Linked DNA regions of Homo sapiens: regions 1, 3 and 4 are each linked to region 2. Evidence: fine-mapped expression QTL. A gene starts in region 2. Each other region holds a variant in brackets. All regions are shown on one strand. Distances are between the middles of the regions.

Region 1 (5,506 bases), 40 kb before region 2:
AAAGGATACTTTTCTAGTTAATGAAATGGTAACCCGTACTCAGGAAATGTTTTTAAAAGACTGCCAGACTTCTTTAAGGCTTTAACTATTGTATTTATCTTGCTTTTATTCTAACTATAGGAAATAGATAATTACTGAAGAAAGATGAATTAAAATTAGTTTATTTGTACATTTTTAAATAAATATGATTTTCTTATATGTATAAAATAAAAACCTGTTATATTGATTTTTTTAATGTAAAACAACTTTTAAGTACAGCCTTATATTTTAAATTCTGTAGGGCTAGAATCAGAATTAGTGCCATAGCAAAGTACTATTTCCACATCTAAATTAACTTAGTCAGCTGAAAAACCAAGTTGACTATGCTTTAACATTTGCTACTAACTAACTCATCCTGTGAATTTCTTTTTGTCATTATAGAGCATTATTTGCTGAAAATCTCCCATTTCTTTCACATGTTCCACCATAAGATGTGTTTTTGCTCCATGACACACATGTGATGAGTAGACAGTACTTTCTGGTCTTCAGAATAATGAAACAGAAAGCAGAGTTCTGTATTAGTATTCTTCCATATTCTGGTGAATATACATCTATCTCTGTCAAAAGGATATGATAGTACCCAGCTGGCTGGGAACTAGAGGATAGCTAAGGAGTTCCCCGAGCCCTCTTCATCTTAGACAACATTTCAAAGTTTATGTTTTCCAAACTATCCTGTATTAGATAATTAATAAACGCAACTAGATCAATTATGTTAGAAAAGTTTTGTTTTCGGCTTAATTGTTCTGTTTGAATCTACGTTTTATTTTCTGGAAAAAAAGTTAAATTAGATATTTAGATCTACAAATATGGATTTCAAAAACTGTCTTATAGTTAATATCTTAAGAAAATTTTACAGTATATAACATCATATCAACACTTAGGATTCTTCATATATTTTTAGAGCCTTAGGATTAAATTAAATAGAAAATACATTATGGACCAGGTGTGGTGGCTCACATCTGTAATCCCAGCACTTTGGGAGGCCGGGGTGAGCAGATCACTTGAGGTCAGGAGTTTGCGACCAGCCTGGCCAACATAGTAAAACGCCGTCTCTGTGGGCACCTGTAATCCCAGCTACTCGGGAGGCTGAGGCAGGAGAGTAGCTTGAACCTGGGAGGCAGAGGTTGCAGTGAGCCAAGATCATGCCACTGAACTTCAAGCTGAGTGACAGAGCGAGACTCCATCAAAAAAAAAAAAAAAGAAAATACAAATACATTATGGATAATTTTAAGAGTGTGCTCTTTCTAAATTCAGATTATTCATTCTTTTATTGAACAGGTAATTTTTGAGTGTGTAAGGTGTGCTGGGCACTGCAAATACAGCAACAAATAAAACAGATAAAAATTCCTGCCTTCACAGATCTTTCATTAAAGTGGAGAAGAGTCAAGCAAAAGACAAAAAAAAAATTAGTAAAACAAATAGTATGTCAGATACTATGCTAAGTGCTATGGCAATAAGTGCTGTGGAGAAAAGTAAGGCAGGAAAAGGAGCTAGGGACTTCAGGGAGATGATGTGCAGGTTTTTATGATGTGGGCAGAGAGGCTTCAACAAAGAGACAGTGATGTTTGAGCGAAACCAATTTCACATCTGTATCAGCTTAGTTCCTTATGTTTTCAACTGCATAGACAATGACTTATAATGATACAAATGATATCAGGATCTAAAGATTATATATATTTCTTGTGTTTATCTGATATTGATCACAAAGTACTAAGTCTACCTTTGTCTTACAAAAAAAATCTGTAACATAAATTTTGTAAATGCTAAAAAAAATTTCTTATATTGTTTATTTCAGATAGCATATTAGACTTGTAGAGTTAAATCAAGTGTTTTTCTATAAATAATTGTGCTCAAGAGAATGAATATAGATAGGATTTTAGTTTATAATGTGGTTCCTCAAGGTCTCTTATGTGTTACATTATAACTGAGTTACTAGAAAATGATATTAAAATAGCAGCTGGTTGTCTTAGGTTTCTGAAGATTTACATATTTTATATTACATTTTTCATTTTCCATCTACATGCAAAATTACCAGACTTTAAGATTTAGCTGCAGAATACATAGAGCTTTCATATTTGTACTTTTTAAAAAAATGATCAACACCTGTTGATATTTTAAGATAGTAAATTTGGCTTAAATTTTAGTTTTATTAGATAAAAAGTTGTAATTTCCAAAGTAGGCAGCAAGTTGTCCCCTGGTGATAATTTAGCAAGATGTAAGTCATTACTATTTATGAGAACCTGCACTACGTAACATCAGTTTCTTCAGCGTTTATATTTGGGCCCCAAAATATTCATACAAAAGTGGTTGCATGAATCAGAAGTATATTTAAAGCCACCCTTAGTGAAATTCTCTGTTCATAGCATTGATAGAAAAACACTTTTCTCTCCTCATACAGGATTTGGCACAGACTCCAGGTCAAGCGGAAAACCAGCCTTACCAACCCAAAGGTATGTCTCTATTGAAATTAAATTTCATGTGTTTGTTAGCCAAATGGACATCTTTCTTATCCTTTCCTCTGGAACTGCTACATTATATGTAAAATTTTATACATAACCTAAAAATATTTGAGATTCAGATACCAAGTATATTTCAGTAAGTAAAGAAATCGATTTTGTCATGAAGCATGAATGCATCCAAATATGTATAGAAATCTGTGGGAGTAAAAGAAAAGCACAAATATCTTTGTATAATTTATAATCATCTCATGCAAGATATATTAAATGGTAAATAATTACTAAAGAGCCGCTTTGTAATACAGGAGCCAGATCATTAATACTGGCCCACATTTCTCACATAAATGCTGAAATCACATAGGTTTGGTTCCTTATCCATGTTCAGAATAAAGTTATCAGTAATAGTAGCCCACAGTTTCCCCCCAAGTTCAAGTAGTTGAACTTTTGTTTTGAAAATAATTGTTTTACATGGAGAAAAAGTCATCTAATTGGCAAAGTCCAGGGCAAAAGATTTACAAGTTGTTTTTTTTTCCTATAGCATTCCTGCTGGGGTGTTTGCTGTGATCAGAGTTAGAGATGTAGAATTTTTACCACATTTTTACTTTTTTAAATATTCTGCTACCCAGACTGTAATTGAGAAGTACAAGTTGCTCTTTGGGTGTTATGACAGCATCTCTGATGAATGAGAACCTAATCCAGATCTTCTTCAATTCTTCCATTAGTTTGATAGTCTTTAAAGTGGCCATTTAGAGGTACACTCCCAGCAGGACCCTTTAGGGCACCCACCAAGAAACCCTTACTTGGTGGGGGTGGGGGTGTTACCTTGGACTCTTTCACACACACACACACACACACACACACACA[A/CACAA]AGTCCTCTACAGTGGACAGGTGTTGAAAAGTGCACAGAAGAAAATATAACTAAAGCTATTACAATATCATGAAAAGAAAAAAAAAAGACGTTTTATTGACTCAGGCACCCAGAAAAGTTAAACAGAAAGCTATGCAACTTTTCAGAAATTCAAGTCCACATCCTTGTCGGTACCATTTGTCTGAGCAAGAATTAGTCTGCAAGTTCAGTTCTGCCCTGACCCAGTCACAGCCCTTTTTTTGTTTTGTTTTGTTTTAACTACTGGAGGATACTTGGGGAGAAATCAGCAAAATGTGTTACTGTTCTTACAAAACAATTTCATTTTGAATAAATTAAAATGCTTAGAAAAATCTAATGTATTTATTTTCAATTGTACAGCAGTTTTGTTTTGTTTTGTTTGCCACTAAGAAGTATAAGCATTTTTTTCTTACTCTTTCTCCTGATCATAAAGATGAGTCACAATTTGTTACATTGTCTGGAAGACACAGTCCCAGAAGCTGCCTCTCTCTGCTTGGTGGACTGAGGCCTGTGGAAGTCTCAACCTTCTTTCTTTTCCAAGGGACCATCTTCCCTGATTTTCATGCTTTCCCCCAGTTACAGTAGGCTTAACCCACAGAACAGCAAAGGGGGAATTGGTCTCTCCTTTGCTCAGAAAGGGTCATCACTATGTTAATGACAGCTCATAATATGTTGCTTGATTTTTTTTTTAATGATGATGCCTAAGTTGCCAGTTTGCACCTTGGGTATTTGTTCCCCTTTTGCCTAGATTAAGTCCTCATAAAATGTCTCAAGATATTTTGAGTTCATTGTCCAGGTAAACCTTTAAATATAAAAGCAGCTCTTGGTAATACCACATTCCTATTGCCCAGGAAGAATTTTGGTTTTCAAATACCTACTGCCTGTCTAGCTGCAATTGTTTACTTTACCTATGTCACTGGCCAGTAAAGCTCCTATCATTCATTCCTACTGCTTTGTTAGATAGGCTGTGCTATATTTGAATAATTTTAAAGATATACTTAAAACTACATTCATGTTTTAAATTAAATAGACTTTCAGAAAACGTCATCATTTACATACAGTTTTCCCCTTTCATGGCTAACTTAAGGATAGAATATAGGACTGTCATTTTAGTTTGTTCTTTTTTTTGTTTTTTGTTTTTTGTTTTTTTTGAGACAGGGTCTCTCTATGTTGCCTATCCTGGAGTGCAATGGCTACTCACAGGTGCGATCATAGCAAACTATAGCCTCTAACTCCTGGGCTCAAGCATTCCCCCGACTTCAGCCTTCCAAATAGCTGGGACTACAGGCGCGCACCACTGTGCTTGCCTGGTTGCTAATTTTTTTCTCATTGTGGAGTCCAAAAACATCTTTTTGTAATTTATATAGGGGTTAATGTCTGAATATGTTAAAGGACAAACTGGATTGTGGTTAAAATATATGTCATATATTTTATACTACAGATAGATTGATACATATAGATCAATCACCTTATTTACCTAAATTGTGTCATGGTTTATTTGAAGTGGATATCTCCATTTTATACTCAGATATCAAAATAAGTTTAATTTATGAATCTTCAAAGAATTTAACCCTCTTTTATTTAACTTTTTTCTCTTTTATCCCCCTCTCAGGGAAATGCCTTGGTTCCCAAGACTATCTTGAGCTGGCTAACAGATTTCCTCAGCAGGCCTGGGAAGAAGCTCGACAGTTTTTCTTGAAAAAAGAGAAAAAATAAATGTTTTGGTTGATTCTGTATTTGAGTACCCTTGTTAATATTTTAAATTGTCCAAACAAACATTCTAATTGTTCCTTAAGAACTCATTTTCCCATGTTTATACTCTTCCCACACTGTAGATATGGCATGTACTTTACACTATTTATAATGACTGTAGATACTTGAATGTTCTACTTGCTAATTTTGCAAGTTGAGTTTATTTCATTTATGCAGAGTATCTTGGAGTTTGGTAATTTCCATCTTATGATAATATATACTTTGCATTTGTGATATGGGTGAAAGGAGACATAAAATTAGCAAGTCTGTTTTGTTCTTGTAATAAAGTAACTTATTCTGTTTTCATTGTTGACTTTTCATGTTAAGGAAATACGAATCTGAAAGAAAAATGTTAACTCCAGCTCTTGAAGTATCTT
Region 2 (5,486 bases):
TCAGGTGTCACAGACTTTGCCCATTTTTAGCCTCTCCCTCTGCTCTGAACTGCTCCACCAGGAACCCCCAGGGGCAACGAGACTCTGGGGTGAACAGCTGCTGCTGATTTGCCCAAGCCTGGGAGCTGTTGAATCTGCCCAGTGGGGGCAGGGCGGGGCAGCCGCTCTCCCCTTGTATTTCGCTTTGTCATGGGTGGGGAGGTAGGGAAGGAGGTTAGTTTGTATCCCAGTTTTTTATATGGTTTTTAGTAAAATATCCTTTTCTGTTTTTACTAAAAGTACCCTTCCCTCTTCCTTCCACTCCCATAGGTCTCAGATTCTAGTCCAGTGTGGGACTGGTTAGGAGGTAAATGCAGTGAGACATGGAATACTAAATTGCCCCTCCCACAGGCAGATTGACTGGGGGACAGGGGTCCACAGCTCTGTCGGCAACATGAGTTCAGACGTGTTCGAAGTGGGTGCAACTTAAGTTTAAGATGGGTCCTCACCTCCTTGTTCATAGAGCTACAAGAGTGAAGAAGAGGAAAGGATTAATTCATCCTGCAGAATTGAGAAAGAGCTTACAAAAGAAATGTCACTTGGGCCAGGCGTGGTGGCTCATGTCTGTAATCCCAGTACTTTGAGAGGCCAAGGTGGGAAGATCACTTGAGGCCAGGAGTTCGAGACCAGCCCTGGGTAACCCTGCCCCTACAAAAAAAAATAGCTGGGCATGGTGGCACATGACTGTAGTCCCAGCTACTTGGGAGGCTGAGGCAGGAAGATTGCTTGATCCCAGGAGTTCGAGACTGCAGTGAGCTGTGATGGCACCACCGCACTCCAGCCTGGGAAACAGAGTGAGACCTTGTCTTAAACAGAACAAAAGAATTGTCACTTGATCTGGGTTTTAAAGAGGGCTGTCAGATGGGGAAGGGAATTTCAGACAGAGGGAAGAGCAAAAGCGCAAGGCCCTTAGAGTGCTTGTTAGTTCAGACAAAGCTCTTGCTTCAGGGAATTTACACTCCAATGCAGTGAGATCAGCAATAAACAAACATGTGCATCCTGTTAGGCAGTGATAAATGCCAAGAAAAAAAATCAAACAAGGTGATAGGGCGTCTGGGAGTGGCATGGGTGCTATTTTAGGTGGAGAGGCTAAGGCCGGCCTTTCTGCAAATGTGTTTTTTGAGCAGAGACCTGAATGAAGTGAGGAAGTACGCCACGCGGGTAACAAGAGAAGGCCATTTCAGGCAGAGGGAAGAGCCAGAGTGCAAAACTCTGAGAGGAGCAGGCTTGTGTGCTCAAGAAGGCCTATGTATCTGGGGAACAGTGAGAGAAGAGGGCAGTGGGAGGAGAGGGAGCCACCATAGGGCTTTGAGCAGAGGTCATGATCAGTCCATCAGTTTGGAGAAGAGGCTTCTGGAAACATGGGCAGAAACAGAAAGACCAGTTAGGAGGCTTTGCAATGATCCAGGCGAGAGAGGACAGGGTCCTGAGTGAAGGTGATACCAGCAGAGGAGCAAAGGGGTGTTGGAGGATATTGCTGGATTCTGGTTATCTTTTGAAGGTAGAGTCAACGGGATTTGTTGATAGACTAGATAACATTGGAAAGGTAGGTTGTTGCTGAATTGGGAATTGAGACAATTTCTGAACATACCACTTCCCTCTTAAAAATTTCGTGTTAAAGTCCAGACTCATTAGCAGTCATTTATTCATTTGCTTATTCATTCAACACATACTGATTGAATGCCTAGTATGGACCAGGCATTGTGCTAGGTGTTGCAGGTAGACACAAAATTTAAAAGTAGGGCATACTGGCCGGGCGCGGTGGCTCACGCCTGTAATCCCAGCACTTTGGGAGTCCGAGGCGGGCGGATCACGAGGTCAGGAGATCGAGACCATCCTGCCTAACACTGTGAAACCCCGTCTCTACTAAAAATACAAAAAAATTAGCTGGGCGTGGTGGCGGGCGCCTGTAGTCCCAGCTACTCGGGAGGCTGAGGCAGAAGAATGGAGTGAACCCGGGAGGCGGAGCTTTCAGTGAGCTGAGCTCGCGCCACTGCACTCCAGCCAGGGTGACAGAGGGAGACTCTCTCTCTCTCAAAAAAAAAAAAAAAAAAAAGGGCATACTTTCTGCCCTTACAGATCTTCAGTCAGATGGGTGACACAGACAAGTACTTAGGTTATTACAACCCATGTGACAATTGCTACCATGGGGAAATACAGGGGGAAATAGGGGCATATAGGAAAGGTATCTAATTGGAATTGGCAAGGCTCCACTCGTACCTTACCCCGAGGTCAGCTCAGTTTTGAAGTTCACTCTAGCAGTGCTGACCATTGCGGGGCTGTGAGACAGTACAGTCTGAGCTCGGTCATCAGCGGGTGGCCAGCTTTGTCTCTGCCGCTCCGCGGCCCGGGCTTACTCGAAGGTCCCCGGGGAATAGCCTCACCTTTGCCCCACTTCCCAGTCTAGCCCCTAACTTCCCGCCGTCTATTGGCTGCGCAGCCGCCCAATGGGCAGGCGGAAACCGCGGGCTCGTGCTCCCGGCCTAGGGCGTCTTATCTCGTTCGCGCGTCTCGCGAGCATTAGGTGACTGGCTGAGGCGGCGCCAGTTGGCCGGGCACGGGGCTGCTGTAAGGCCGAGGTTGCGGCGGAAGCGGAGACCATGTTCCGAGCGGCGGCTCCGGGGCAGCTCCGGCGGGCGGTGAGTCCGGACTGGGAAGGCGAACCCAGGGACGGCCCCCCGTCAACCCGCCGTCCCTATGGGGTCTTGCAAAGATCACTGGCCCCCTCAGATTCGACCAGCCCTCGCGCCCGCAGGCCGGTCCCCGCCTGGGACTTGGGTCCAAAGTTCTGGGGCCTACCCTGGACTCCCTGCGGAACGCCAGTTCGGGGCAGAAGTCAGAGGTTTGGGGTCAGGGTGACCCCGAATGATGTGAATTTGCGCGTCTGCTGCCCCTTCTTCTGGCCCACTCTCTGCCCTGCCGTTTCCCACCTTTGTCGGTCACTCTGGGCACTTTCGGGCCGCCAGGTCCTCCACACTTGCTCCACACCCGAGGGAGCAAAATGTCACCGGGGAATGCCCTGTTGGGGAAAGTTTCAAACCTAGATTCCTCCCGGAGGCCGGCATTTCTGGAAGAATTAAACACTTTGGGCGCATCGTGGCTACTCCGACCCACTCACTGTCAAGGGCGGGGGTGGGGTGGGGTGGGAGGCTGCGTGGCCAGTTATGGAAGCTGGTTCTGCTTTCTGGTTTATGGAGCAGGGCTGAATTTAGGTGATTGTATTTGTAAAACCTGCGATCCGATTTGACAGCTTTAGCCAGTTTTGAAAGGCAGACGTCTTTTTATATGCTTCAGGCTGACCTGCTTTTAACCAGCAGATTGTAGATTAGGTTAACTGGTGACAGTGGTACATTTTCAGTGTTTCATTAGTGACAAACCACATTTCTCTCTTCTGTTGTGAGAAGGACTGATAGGAAACATATTTTCCTTCTCATGCTGTGGGAAAGGAGTATTTGGAGACTGACCAGTCACAAGTCAAGTAACAATAATTTATATTGTGGATTGTGTAGTTTTCCTAGTTTACATTTAGGTGAAATGAGAAACAAGATTGGTAAACTTGGGTCAGAAACTTACCTGATGGTTTGTACCTTTTCTCCTTTTTTTTTTTTTTTTTTTTTTTCTGGGCATGGATATTTTCCCATCCACTCCTGGGATTTTTCTCTCTGAGGCATAGCTGGAGCTCTTTCTAGATGTCTGTAGACATTAGACTTTTGTTTGTTTGTTTGTTTGTTTGTTTAAGAGACAAGGTCTGGCTCTGTTTCCCATGCTGGAGTGGAGTGCAGTGGCACGATATGGGCTCACTGCAACCGTCGCCTCCCAGGTTCAAGCGATTCTCCCACCTCAGCTTCCCGAGAAGCTGGGATCACAGGTGCGCATCATCACGCCTGGCTAATTTTTTTTTTTTTTTTTTTTTTTTTTTTGTAGAGACGGGGTTTCCCCATGTTACCCAGGCTGGTCTCGAACTCTTGTCCTCAAGTGATCCACCTGCCTCGGCCTCCCAAAGTCCTGGAATTACAGGCCTGAGCTACCGCACCTGGCCTTAGACATCTTTTTTCTTGTGCGTATTCCTTGTTTAATAAAAAGTTCTGACCCTCCCCTCCCCTAAAGAGTTCAAACCCATGTCTTTCAGGTTAGTGTCCTGTCTTCCCCTCAGGACATGTTTTCTCCCGGTTGGGGATCTAGACATAAACAAGTGAAAATCATGAATTTGGGGAAATTCCAGGAACCTGAGCCAGAAGAATGCTGCTCTATGCAGCAGTTGGAAAACAGTTTTGTGGACAGATTACAAGTCTGGCCTAAGTGAAATTATAATTGTGGTGGGGGATGGAATTTAGGACTCAGTAATTTTGTAGAGCTAACAGAAAAAAATGGAATGATTAAGTAATTTTTACTATCCACATCGTTGGCTAATGTGTATAGACATTACTTCCAGATATTCATTGTGGTTTGCCAAAGACTTTGACCTTGACTTATTTTTAAAATTTGAAGTCAAGCTAAGTAGAATAGCTGTTTTTTTTGTTTGTTTGTTTGTTTGTTTTGAGACGGAGTCTCGCTCTGTCGCCCAGGCTGGAGTGCAGTGGCGCGATCTCAGCTCACTGCAAGCTCCGCCTCCCGGGTTCACGCCATTCTCCTGCCTCAGCCTCCTGAGTAGCTGGGACTACAGGTACCCGCCACCACGCCCCGCTAATTTTTTTGTATTTTTAGTAGAGACGGGGGTTTCACTGTGTTAGCCGGTATGGTCTCGATCTCCTGACCTCATGATCCGCCCGCCTTGGCCTCCCAAAGTGCTGGGATTACAGGCGTGAGCCACCGCGCCCAGCCTAGAATAGCTGTTTTAAAGTCATTAAGAATGTTGGAGAGATTTGGATTTCTAGCATAAAAGAAATGGTGGCAACACTTCTAAAGTGGACCCATATATTAATAGGGACATATACCTGTATTTAACTTTTTAAATTTTGAAATAGTTGCACTTATAGAAAAGTTGCAAGAATAGTACAAAGAAATCTCAAAACCCTTCCCCTGGTTTTCCCAGCATGTTAGCAGTTTGACACATTTGCTTTATCTTTCCACATATATACATAATACTATCTTTCTGAACCATTTGAAAGTATGTTGCAAATGTGCCCTTTACTCCTAAATAATTGAGTGATATTTTAAAAGAACAAAGAGGTTCACTTTCTAACTACACTGTAATTGGCAATATCTGGAAGTTTCACCATAAAATACTGTTTTCTAATCTATGGATGTTCAATTTTGCCAGTTGTCCCATTAGTACAGTTTATAGCAATTTTCCTTATTCTGGTCTAAGATACTCTAGATGTCCTGCAAGTGGTTTTCATGTCTCTTTACTCTGTTAGAAAGGTTCCTCAGCCTTCCTTTGGGTTTGATGACATTGGTGTATTTGAAGAGTACAGGCCTTCTATTTTCCAGACTGTCACTCAATTTGG
Region 3 (5,506 bases), 82 kb before region 2:
GCTATCCTAAGGGAAAAGAACAAAACTGGAAGAATCACATTACTTGACTTTATAATACAAAGCTGTAATAATCAAAACAGCATGGTACTGGCATAAAAACAGACACATGGACCAATGGAGCAGAATAGAGAACCCAGAAACAAATTCATCTACAGTGAACTCATTTTTGACAAAGGTGCCAAGAGCATAAATTAGGGAAGAGTCTCTTCAATAAATGATGCTGGGAAAACTGGATATCCATATGCAGAAGAATGAAACTAGACCCCTGTCTCTCACCATATACAGAAATCGAAATGGATTAAAGACTTTAAGACCTCAAAACTATGAAACTACTACAAGAAAACATTGGGGAAACTCTTAAGGACATTGTACTGGGCAAAAATTTCTTGAATAGTACCCTGCAAGCACAGGCAACCGAAGCAAAAATGGATAAATGGGATCACATCAAGTTAAGCTCCTGCACAGCAAAGGAAACAATCAATCAAGTGAAGAGACAATCCACAGAAGAGAGAAAATATTTGCAAAGTACCCATCTGACAAGGGATTAACAACTAGAATATATAAGAATTCAAACAACTCTATAGGAAAAACTCTAATAATCCAATTTTTAAATGGGCGAAAGATCTGAAGAGACATTTCTCAAAAGAAGACATACAAATGGCAAACAGGCATATGAAAAGGTGCTCAACATCATTGATCATCAGAGAAATGCAAATCAAAACTACAAAGAGATATCATCTCATCCCAGTTAAAATGTCTTTTATCTAAAAGACATTCAATAACAAATGCTGGCAAGGATGTGGAGAAAAGGGAACCCTCATACGCTGTTGGTGGGAATGCAAATTAATACAACCACTATGGAGAACAGTTTGGAAATTCCTACAAAAACTAAAAATAGAGCTACCATACAATCCAGCAATCCCACTGCTGGGTATATACCCAAAAGAAAGGAAATCAGTATATCAAAGAGATATCCACACTCCCATGTTTGTTGCAGCACTGTTCCCAATAGCCAAGATTTGAAAGCAGCCTAAGTGTCCATCAGGAGATGAATGGATATAGAAAATGTACTCATACACACAATGGAGTCCTATTCAGCCATAAAAAAGAATGAGATCCTCTCATTTGCAACAACATGGATGAAATTCGAGGTCATTGTGTTAAGTAAAATAAACTAGGCACAGAGAGATAAACATCACATGTTCTCACTTATTTGTGGGATCTAAAAATCAAAACAAACTCATGGAGATGGAGAGTAGAAGGATGGGTGCCACAGGCTGGGAAGGGTAGTGGGTGGGTGGGAGAGAGCTGGGGATGGTTAATGGGTACAAAAAAATAAAAGCGTTAGAATGAATAAGACTAAATATTTGATATCACAACAGGGTGACTATAGTCAGTAATAATTTAATTGTACATTTTAAAATAACTAAAAGAATATAATTGGATAGTTTGTAACACAAAGGATAAATGCTTGAGGAGACAGATAACCCCATTTTCCGTGATGTGATTATTACTCATTGCATGCTCGTATCAAAATATCTCAGGTATCCCATAAATATGTATACCTACTGTGTACCCACAAAAATTTTAAAAACATAAAATGAATTTTTAAAGCCTTTGAGCAAGGAAGTGACCTGCTAAGAACCATATTTGGGAGCACTGGTCAAGTGTCGTGTGAAGAATGTATTAGAAGGTGGAAAGTGCAAGGGGCATTAACAGTTGTCCAGGTAAGAGACGAAAGGAATGGAAAGAAGAATGTTTTGAAAAACCCTCCCATAGACACTCTTTTTGTGTATGGTATCACCAGTCTCTCAGGCATCAAGCTCCAAACCTCATCATCTCTAATCTCTCCTCCTGATACCCCAGATCTAATCTACTGCCACATTCTGTTGATTGAAAGGAAACTTAAAGTCCCCTATCTGGTCTTCCAGTCAGGTTTGAATCTTTTCAGTAAGCCTCTCTGTCTCTGTTGAACACCTCCAGTGACAGGAAATTCGTTACTTAACTAAGGGGAGCTTGAGTTGTTGTTGCTTAAACCATCTCTCCTTATACCAAGCTGAAATCTGTCTCCCTAGTGCTACCTATTAGTATAAGGCCTACTTGCTCCTTGGCAACATGCAGACTAATATGAACCTACTCTTCTTCCTGAACTCCCCTGGTCTCACGGTACCTCATATTTTCCTTTGCTTTTCTTCTTGTTACGGTTACAATAACTGCAACAAATTACCCTAAAATTTAGTGGCATAAAACAACCATCTATTAATCTCACAGATTCTGTGGGTCAGGAATTCTTTTAAGGTACGGAGAGGATGGGTTATCTTTGTTCCACAATGTCTGGGGCCTCAGAAGACTTGAAG[G/C]CTGGTGGTTGGAATCATCTGAGTGCTTATTCACACATCTGTGGTAGATGCTGGCTGTCAGCCAGGGGTCTTTCCATGTGGGGTCTCTGCATAGGCTTAATTGGCTTCCTCACAGCATGGTGGCTGTGTTCCAAGAACAAGCATCCTGGCAGTGAGAGAGCAGCTAGAAACCATATCACCTTTTATGACTCAGCCTCAGAAATCACACAGCATCACTTGCACTACATTCTATTCACCAAGGCAGTCATGAAGTTCCATCCAGCTTCAAAAAAAGGAGAAATAGACTTTGCCTCTTCCTGGGGAGGATGAAGGTTCTAGAAGAGCATAGGGGACCAGAAATGTTGCTGTGGTTATACTTGAAAAATATAGCCTGCTACTTTCCACCCTACCCTAAAGATAAATGAGTTCCCAGTCTCCTGTTCTCAGCTGCCTTCTATTCTCTCTGCAGTCTCTTATTTGATACTGTCAGCCCATTCCTAAATATTTTGTTGTCATTAGCTACTGTCTTTGGACAAAGGGTTTGTTGGTATTGGGAGATAGGCAATGAAGTGAATGTAACAGGACTAGGCAAGTGGAACTAAAAGAAGTAACATTTGTTAAGCACCTTTGATACACCCTGAGCTGAGTATTTCATGTGGGCTATCTCCCTACAAGCATTCAAGAGTCCTGCTCACGCTGTCAAAGGAGTTAAAACAGCCACTAGACTAATAAGGAGGAGTGACTGTCCTTATCCTTCAGATCTAGAGAATGGGAAGAATACAGAAGCAGGAACTTCTGGGGTGTCTCTGTACTCACAATGGCAAAGTGCTAATAGAGGGACTTCCGAAAGATCCATCCCAGCTGACATAAAGCCCTAGTTACTTGAAGGAATGGAAAGATGACAACTTCATTGGTACAGTTCACATGAGTGCTCACTATGTGCTAGGCAGAAAGGGAACTGGCTGGGCCCCAGCTCGTAGGGCCAAAGTTTAGGACAGTCTCCACTGACTTACCATTCTCACAGGGGACAAGGGATGATGGCCTCAACATGCAGGGTTTAGAGGAGCAGAATGTGTCCAGGATACATTTGCAGCCAGATTCTCACTGGCTCTAGGAGACTGAGAAGGCAGGATCTCAAGAGGAAAACTGTGTGTAATATTATGTTGAAGAGCAAAGGTTAGGAAGTCAGAAAGATGTGGGCTCAGTTTCAGCTTTCTCAGTTCTGTGACCTGTGGCAGCGTGCAGAAGAGTGATCACGGCTTACTGCAGCCTCAATCCTCCAGGCTCAATCTATCCTCCAACCTCAGCTTCCCAAGTAGCTGAGACTACAGGGATGCACTGCTGCGTTCCACTAATTCTCTGATTTTGCTTTGTGTGTGTGTGTGTGTAGACGAGCTCTCCCTATGTTGCCCAGGCTGGTGTCGAACTCCTGGGCTCAAGTGATCTTCCTGCATCAGCCTCCCAGAGTGTTGGGATTGCAGGCGTGAGCCACCATGCCTAGCCCTGGTTCTTTAGGTTTTCAAAGCCTGTTGTTCACATATGAAAATGAATGTGTTACTTCTTCCCTCACAGGGTTGGACATGACAGGAGTAAATGGGGGCTAACATCTGTCACTCTTACTTCTTGTCTAAGATGCTATTTTTTACATATTCTTGTATTCATTATAACACATTTTGTTCCAAAAACTTGAGATAGCTTATAGAAGTATATATATGTTATTTTTTTAATTAAAAATTAAAAGGAGATAGGCAGGAAAGGTAAATCAAGCCACAGCAAGTAAGGTTAAGGCCCAAACCATATTCATAACAAGGCCATGATAGACATTTCCTCCTGGAATTCCTACTGGCAATTTCTACCAGGAACTTATATTTAATATGTTAGATCCTGAGCTCATTGGCTTTCACCCAAAGTTGGCTGTCCCTCCTGACTGCCTTATTCTGCTCATGATTCCAGCAATCTGAGTAGATTTTAAGACCCAAAGCCTTAGTCATCTTTGACTTTTCTTTCCCAGAATCCAATCCAGTCCTATTTGATTCCATCAAAGGGATGTTTTCCTCTGAAATATGAGATGGAACATACCATTTATGCCACTTACTTGGTATTTGTCAACGTGCAGTTCATTATTTCTCTTTCCTTGTATACATGGTTTGTGTCTAGAGTTAAAAGTATTTACCTAGAGAAAGAAGCTAAATATCCTAGCAGCTTCCCGTCAGGCACATAGCACCTGAAACAAAACAAAATAAGAACTTGAGAAACAGCTGTTCATTGGTAGAGCTAGCAAATACTAGTGAACGATCATTGGCCTATGTCGGAATCCCATTTCCTGGGCCTATTCTATACATAAGAAGAAGGACTGCCCACATCTCATGTTCTTCTTTCTCTGAGTTAGGAAATAGGCATCCAAGGCCTTCATTCCTTTGGCATGCCTTGCTAAGATCAGTTCTCCCTTTCTTCCTTCTATTTCTTTGGCAAATATTTACTCATACCTATTTACTGAGTATGTGCTATGTCCCAGACCTTGTCAAGGTACTGGGGATCGATTGATGAACAAGATACCACTCTGATGAAATTTACAGTCTAATGGGGAAAAAACAATCAACCAATATACAAATAAGATTATTTTAGCTAGTGACATGAGAAAATAAAGCCTGGTAATATAGCCGAATGTCTTGGTCAAGGGCTTCTGCAGACGAAGTGGTCAGGAACGGCCTCTCTGGGGAGATGACAAGCTAAGACGGAACCAGGCATGTAAAGACCCAAGCAAAGGGTATTCTAGTTGAGAAGAATGGCAAGACCTTGAAGTGGATGTTCCAGAAACAGAGAAAGTGATATATTGGAATGTGAAGAGCCAGAAAGAAAGTGGTAGAAGTTGAAGTCAATAAGTAAAGGCCAGGAGATGAGGACAGAAAGGTGAGAAATCTGAATTCTGCTCTTAAGTGTGAGTGGAAGCCACTGGAGGATTTTAAACAGGAGAGTGGCTTAAAAAGTAAAAAAGCATCTGTTTACTCTGTGAAAAATGGATTAGAGAAGCAAGAGTGGAAGCCAGAAAGATCATTTAGGAGGGTACTGGAATCTTAATGCAGCACCTGATATGACAGTTTTTTCCTCCCAGTTACCCTCCCAGCAGAAGCAATTACCTTTACTTGGCAACACAACATAGCCTCTGGCAG
Region 4 (5,506 bases), 390 kb before region 2:
AGTGTTCCTGTTTCTCCACATCCTCTCCAGCACCTGTTGTTTCCTGACTTTTTAATGATCGCCATTCTAACTGGTGTGAGATGGTATCTCATTGTGGTTTTGATTTGCATTTCTCTGATGGAGAGTGATGATGAGCATTTTTTCATGTGTCTTTTGGCTGCATAAATGTCTTCTTTTGAGAAGGGTCTGTTCATATCCTTCGCCCACTCTTTGATGGGGTTGTTTGATTTTTTCTTGTAAATTTGTTTGAGTTCATTGTAGATTCTGGATATTAGCCCTTTGTCAGATGAGCAGGTTGCGAAACTATCTGATCTTTGACAAACCTGAGAAAAACAAGCAATGGGGAAAGGATTTCCCTATTTAATAAATGGTGCTGGGAAAACTGGCTAGACATATGTAGAAAGCTGAAACTGGATCCCTTCCTTACACCTTATACAAAAATTAATGCAAGATGGATTAAAGACTTAAACATTAGACCTAAAACGGTAAAAACCCTAGAAGAAAACCTAGGCATTACCATTCAGGACATAGGCATGGGCAAGGACTTCATGTCTAAAACACCAAAAGCAATGGCCACAAAAGCCAAAATTGACATATGGGATCTAATTAAACTAAAGAGCTTCTGCACAGCAAAAGAAACTACCATCAGAGTGAACAGGCAACCTACAAAATGGGAGAAAATTCTCGCAACCTACTCATCTAACATTTCCTGTTTTTACTAAGCAATTTACTAATGACTTGAAGGCATTAGAGGTAGGCTTCTTATATTCATAGGTTTTAATCACTCAAAAGTAAAGTAAAAGATGTTTCTTATAATTTGCTTCACTTGATTTCAGTGCTTATGAATTGTATAATTATAGCTTGGGAGATTATGATAAACTGATACTTTCTAGAAAATTTTTAGCATTACTACAACCATAGGCAGTCTCTAACAGTATGAATGTTTCATATTATATCACAGTTATTTACATGCTGGCTCCTCACAGAGATAGTAAAACCCCTAAGGTAGAAGACTGTATTTTACTATTTGTATAGTCCTAGAAATCTATCATGCGTTTAAATTTATTGTAGCAGGTATTTATTGAGCCTTGTGGTAGGCAGGGGAATGCAGAGATAAGGCATGGTTCTGATTTTTAAGAAACTCTTCATTTACTTTAAATTCAGATGCTAAGTACATAACCTCCACATAAAGAGAGGCATACATGAAATGCTGTGGAAGCACAGAAGAGGACACTTAGTCTAATATGAGGAGTGTCAGAGGTCAGGAAGTGATTTTAAAGAACACTTCCTGAGCTGGATCTTGAAAGGAGGATGAGTAAAATGGATAGGTAGGTGCGATGCCATTCTAGCCATATCAAATAGATGAGTATAAGGACAAAGGTCTGAAATAGCGTTTTTTCCCCCAGGATTGTCACTGGAGGTATAAAAATGGAGTAGGTTATAGGTTTGGTCATGATGGGCCTTGCCTGCTGTATGGATAAGCATATGCTTTACCCGTAGGTTAACATTTCCCATGGTGGGTTCCAGGAAGTGGTTCTCAAAAATGTGTTATTGGCAAATAATTTGTAAGTTGATGCCTACTAAAAGCTAGGTGCATTGAGTCATATATCACAGTGACGTACTGGAGGTTCTGTAAAGTTCTACATTAAAAACCTGTTTAGTTTTAGCTTGCTGTTTTCCAAATTTATTTGACCATGGAACCTGTTCTGTAAAACACTTGTTAATATCTCCTGGAGCACACTTTAATAAACATTACTGTTCATGTGGGTGATATTAAAGGGCTTTGTGTAAAGCTTTGTCTTCAGTGTGTAAGTTGTCATAGAAACGACATTCTATTATTTTTGAAGTTTTAATGGAAATATTATTTTTCCAATTTCTCACCATAATTTGAATAATTTTTGAAATTCTTGCACTTTGACTTCATCTACAGCATGATGAAAGTATTCGAAGGCACATGGAACAGATTGAACAAAGAAAAGAAAAAGCTGCTGAGCTAAGCAGTGGGCGACATGCAAATACTGATTATGCCCCCAAACTGACCCCTTATGAAAGAAAGAAGCAGTGTTCTCTCTGCAATGTCCTGGTAGGTTGTTATATCAATATTGTAATGATATAGTTTACTACTAAAGTTTATGAAACCATGGAAATATATTCTTGCAGTCTTTTAAAACTCACGCTAAGGCAGGCGAGATGTGGCAGCTCACACCTGTAATTTCAGCACTTTAGGAGACTGAGGTGGGCGGATCACTTCAGGCCAAGAGTGCAAAACCAGCCTTTCCAACATGGTGAAACCCTGTCTCTACTAAAAATACAAAAAATTAGCTGGGCATGGTGGTGCATGTCTGTAATCCCAGGTACTCGGGAGGCTGAGGCATGAGAATCCTTTGAACCCAGGAGGTGGAGGTTGCAGTGAGCCAAGATCATGCCACTGCACTCCATCCTGGGTGACAAAGCAAGACTCTGTTTCAAAAAATAAAACTCATGCTAAGGCATCTGCTGAGTGACCTGGATTTCTTTCATGATTCTGAATGAAAAGTGGTACAAATAACATCAGCATTTTGGAATAGCAGTAAAAGTGCTCAAGAATATAGTTACTATTAAAATGGATGATTACCTGCTTAATGTGATAGCCCAAGTCAGTATTTTTGGGGTATTAGATCTAAAAAAAAAGCAACATTTTCACTGCTGAGACTTGAACCTTCAAACTTAGAGGAAATAATTTCCTCTTAGGCTGGCTGTAACATGTCTTTTTTTT[G/TG]TTTTGTTTTGTTTTGAGATGGAGTATCGCTTTGTCACCCAAGCTGGAGTGCAGTGGCACGATCTCAGCTCACTGCAACCTCCGCCTCCCAGGTTCCGGCGATATTCCTGCCTCAGCCTCCCAAGTCTTTTTTTTTAACCATTTGCCTTCTAGAGGATTCTCAGAATTATGTTCTGAGGAAACTATTTTTAAGACTAATATGTAAATACTAGGTGGATCTCAACTCACATATCATATACTGGACTGAATGTGTAGTGTTTAAAATTCATATAATGTTATATTGATTACATTGCTTTGATTTTGTGCTTTCAGATCTCTTCAGAGGTATATCTTTTTAGCCATGTTAAAGGGAGAAAACACCAGCAAGCCGTGAGAGAGAATACCAGCATCCAGGGGCGTGAACTGTCAGATGAAGAAGTGGTAAACTTTATTTTTGTTCATTTACAATTGTTTATTGAGTACCCAATATGTGCTGTTTTATTATAAAGAATTCCGTGTTTGTATTTATTTCTATGATTATTTAAAACTATATTTAGCACTTAATAGCTACTACAATATAGTGTACAAATGTGTCATTATTTTAGTGTATATATTAATTTAACAAGAAAGATAGAAAAAAGAATTTAATGCTGTTATTTACATAATTTCAGTATAAGGAAATGTTATGGTATATTGATATTTTAATAATGCAGGAAAATAATCACTCAATGACATGCCACATTCTTGGAAAACAGTTAACCACATAAATTTCACTTAAGAGGATAATTTTGGATCAGTATACCATTTAGAAGCTTTTGGAAATTCATTATTTCTTCACACATAATTATTGTCAACATGGAATTTAGATTTGTATAAATATGTATATGAATATTTTTCATTTAACTCTTTTTGAAACTTGGATGATATAGCTAATCTATGAATTTATTGTCCTATTTATTATAGTAAATTTTTAAAACTACTCAAGAATAAGAAATTCATATTTGTTAAGCAACTCAAGCTGTCCAGGAAAAGTTATTGTGGGTTCTTTGAGGGCAGGTACCTTTATGTAGGTGCATGTGTATATTGAACTTTTTTTTTTTTTTAGGTATGGCATTCATTAGTCAAGAGCATAAATCTCAAGTATATAGCTGATGAATTTTTACATATGTATAAACTGATATAAAACCACCCAGATCATAATATAGATCATTTGTTGTACCCTTTGGGCTCCTCTTATGCCCCCTCCTACTTATGTCCCCAAAAGTTAACTACTGTGAATTTTTGTATCATTATTTAGTGTTGCCTGTTCTTAAATTTCATACAAATGTTATCATACAGTATGTATTCTTTTCTGCCTGACTTCATACATTCATGCTTAAGCTTGTGAAAGTGATCCCTATTGTTTATGTGAAGCTGTAGTTATTCTTCTTAGCTTTATGTCAGTGCCCTCCTGTGTAGCATCAGGAACATGTCTGTAGTTGAATAGTATTTTATTTAATGACTTGTTAAAAGAAGGGGAAACAGGAAGAGCCAAGATGGCTGACTAGATGCAGCCAGGAAGAGCATCTCCCACTGAGAGACCAGACCATCAAGAAGGCTGGCACACTCTGAGCAGATCTTCCTAAGGAAGGCATTGAGAGTAGAGGAAGGGAAGGCACACCCTGGGCTGAAGCTGCAAGAGAAAGCAGGGAATGTTGCCTGGCTTTGTAGAGCACCAGGACTCTCTCCTGAGGAAGAGGTGGCTAACTAAGCAAGGAGTGGTCCACTCTCACCACGGACCTCTGGAATCCTAGCTGCAGGAGACCCCATGACCCCCACGGACATTTGAGCTGTCAGGGAGAATTGCTTGGAGAGGTGGCAGGGACTGGAGTCCAGCTTGTGAAGAGTCCAGAGGGTTTGACACAGGAACAGCTGCTGTGGAGGGCAGCCAGAGATGCTCAACCCTCAAGTCTCACTGTGTTCCTCTAGGTGGCTTTGGCCATTATTGTCCGTCAGACCTGCACACAGCAGGGCTGTCTTGACAGTGGGACAGGGCCAGTGTAATCCGAGCACTCTGGTCTGATGGCATCTCTCAGGGTCCTTGCCTGGCCATGCCTTCTTGCAGTGCGGACTTGGATGCCCAAACGAGGTGCTTCCAGGTGGCTGCCACCGTAGCTCCTACCCCAGGAGACCCTGCCTGACCATCGGAGAGCTTCTGTGGATGGGCCCCTGCTGGCGTGCAACTACCCACAGCCTCTCCCCACCACTTTCTGGCAGCTGCATGGACTTTGCCACCATGCTGCTACTGGCACCGGTGCAGGTATGGACTCCGTTGCCATTGCCCTGCCATCACCAGTGTGCGAATACTGTTCACACTCTGCCAGCTGCAACTGCGTGCATGTGGAACCTGTGACTGCTAGCCTGTGCACTTGAACCTGATACCACCATGTTGATGAAGTGATTTTGCCAGCGCCCGCCATTGAAGTGTTGTTGCCAGCGGACCAGGAACACCTTAGCCACTCCAGCGCAGCAAGTGCTTAACTTTGAGGTGCCTAAGAGCAAAGCCATGGGCCTGGTCTCAGTCCCCCAGGGCATGCAGTCCAGCGCTGCTGAAATCATCCAGAAGCAGAGCCAGTTCACTGAACGTGCAGTGTATACTGCAGTCAAACCCTCAAGGGCATCAAAGAATATAAAAACAAAAAGCCTCATCCAAAGGACAGCAATTTCGAAGATGAAAGGAACATCCTTTCATGTTAAAAACCCTCAACAAACTAAGAATTGAAGGAACATAGC

Which allele goes with the higher level. Positions count from the first base shown, and alleles are read on the strand shown. Sizes are in standard deviations (SD) of each study's normalised expression. Not every link is listed here.
For the expression in activated CD8 T cells of the gene that starts at base 2,559 in region 2, A is the low allele of the variant in region 1 and CACAA is the other (large effect, 1.4 SD a copy in Schmiedel 2018).

What was found. PIP is the estimated chance that this variant, and not a neighbour inherited with it, causes the effect. A credible set is the group of variants that fine-mapping cannot tell apart.
Region 1: its variant is the best candidate, but not a certain one, in a credible set for the expression of ETFA in activated CD8 T cells (Schmiedel 2018, PIP 0.78).
Region 3: its variant is the best candidate, but not a certain one, in a credible set for the expression of ETFA in whole blood (TOPMed, PIP 0.76).
Region 4: its variant is the best candidate, but not a certain one, in a credible set for the expression of ETFA in whole blood (INTERVAL, PIP 0.82).

The regions. Positions count from the first base shown.
Region 1 is chr15:76,348,220-76,353,725 of GRCh38, reverse strand. SCAPER (S-phase cyclin A associated protein in the ER) reads left to right here. Exons shown (of 32, transcript NM_020843.4): 31 at 2,438-2,489; 32 at 4,990-5,506. The coding sequence ends at 5,093. Among named protein-coding and RNA genes, the nearest start is that of ISL2, 14 kb to the right of the region's middle. The variant A/CACAA (reference allele first, on the strand shown) is at 3,360.
Region 2 is chr15:76,308,542-76,314,027 of GRCh38, reverse strand. It overlaps ETFA (electron transfer flavoprotein subunit alpha), which reads left to right and starts at 2,559. Exons shown (of 12, transcript NM_000126.4): 1 at 2,559-2,678. The coding sequence starts at 2,640. RefSeq lists a cis regulatory region at 1-375 and enhancers at 1,937-1,986, 2,047-2,096, 2,306-2,806, 2,807-3,307.
Region 3 is chr15:76,390,787-76,396,292 of GRCh38, reverse strand. All of the region lies in intron 27 of SCAPER (S-phase cyclin A associated protein in the ER), which reads left to right. Among named protein-coding and RNA genes, the nearest start is that of ISL2, 57 kb to the right of the region's middle. The variant G/C (reference allele first, on the strand shown) is at 2,358.
Region 4 is chr15:76,699,427-76,704,932 of GRCh38, reverse strand. It overlaps SCAPER (S-phase cyclin A associated protein in the ER), which reads left to right. Exons shown (of 32, transcript NM_020843.4): 19 at 1,931-2,083; 20 at 3,068-3,175. Among named protein-coding and RNA genes, the nearest start is that of MIR3713, 120 kb to the right of the region's middle. RefSeq lists enhancers at 4,601-5,101, 5,102-5,506. The variant G/TG (reference allele first, on the strand shown) is at 2,756.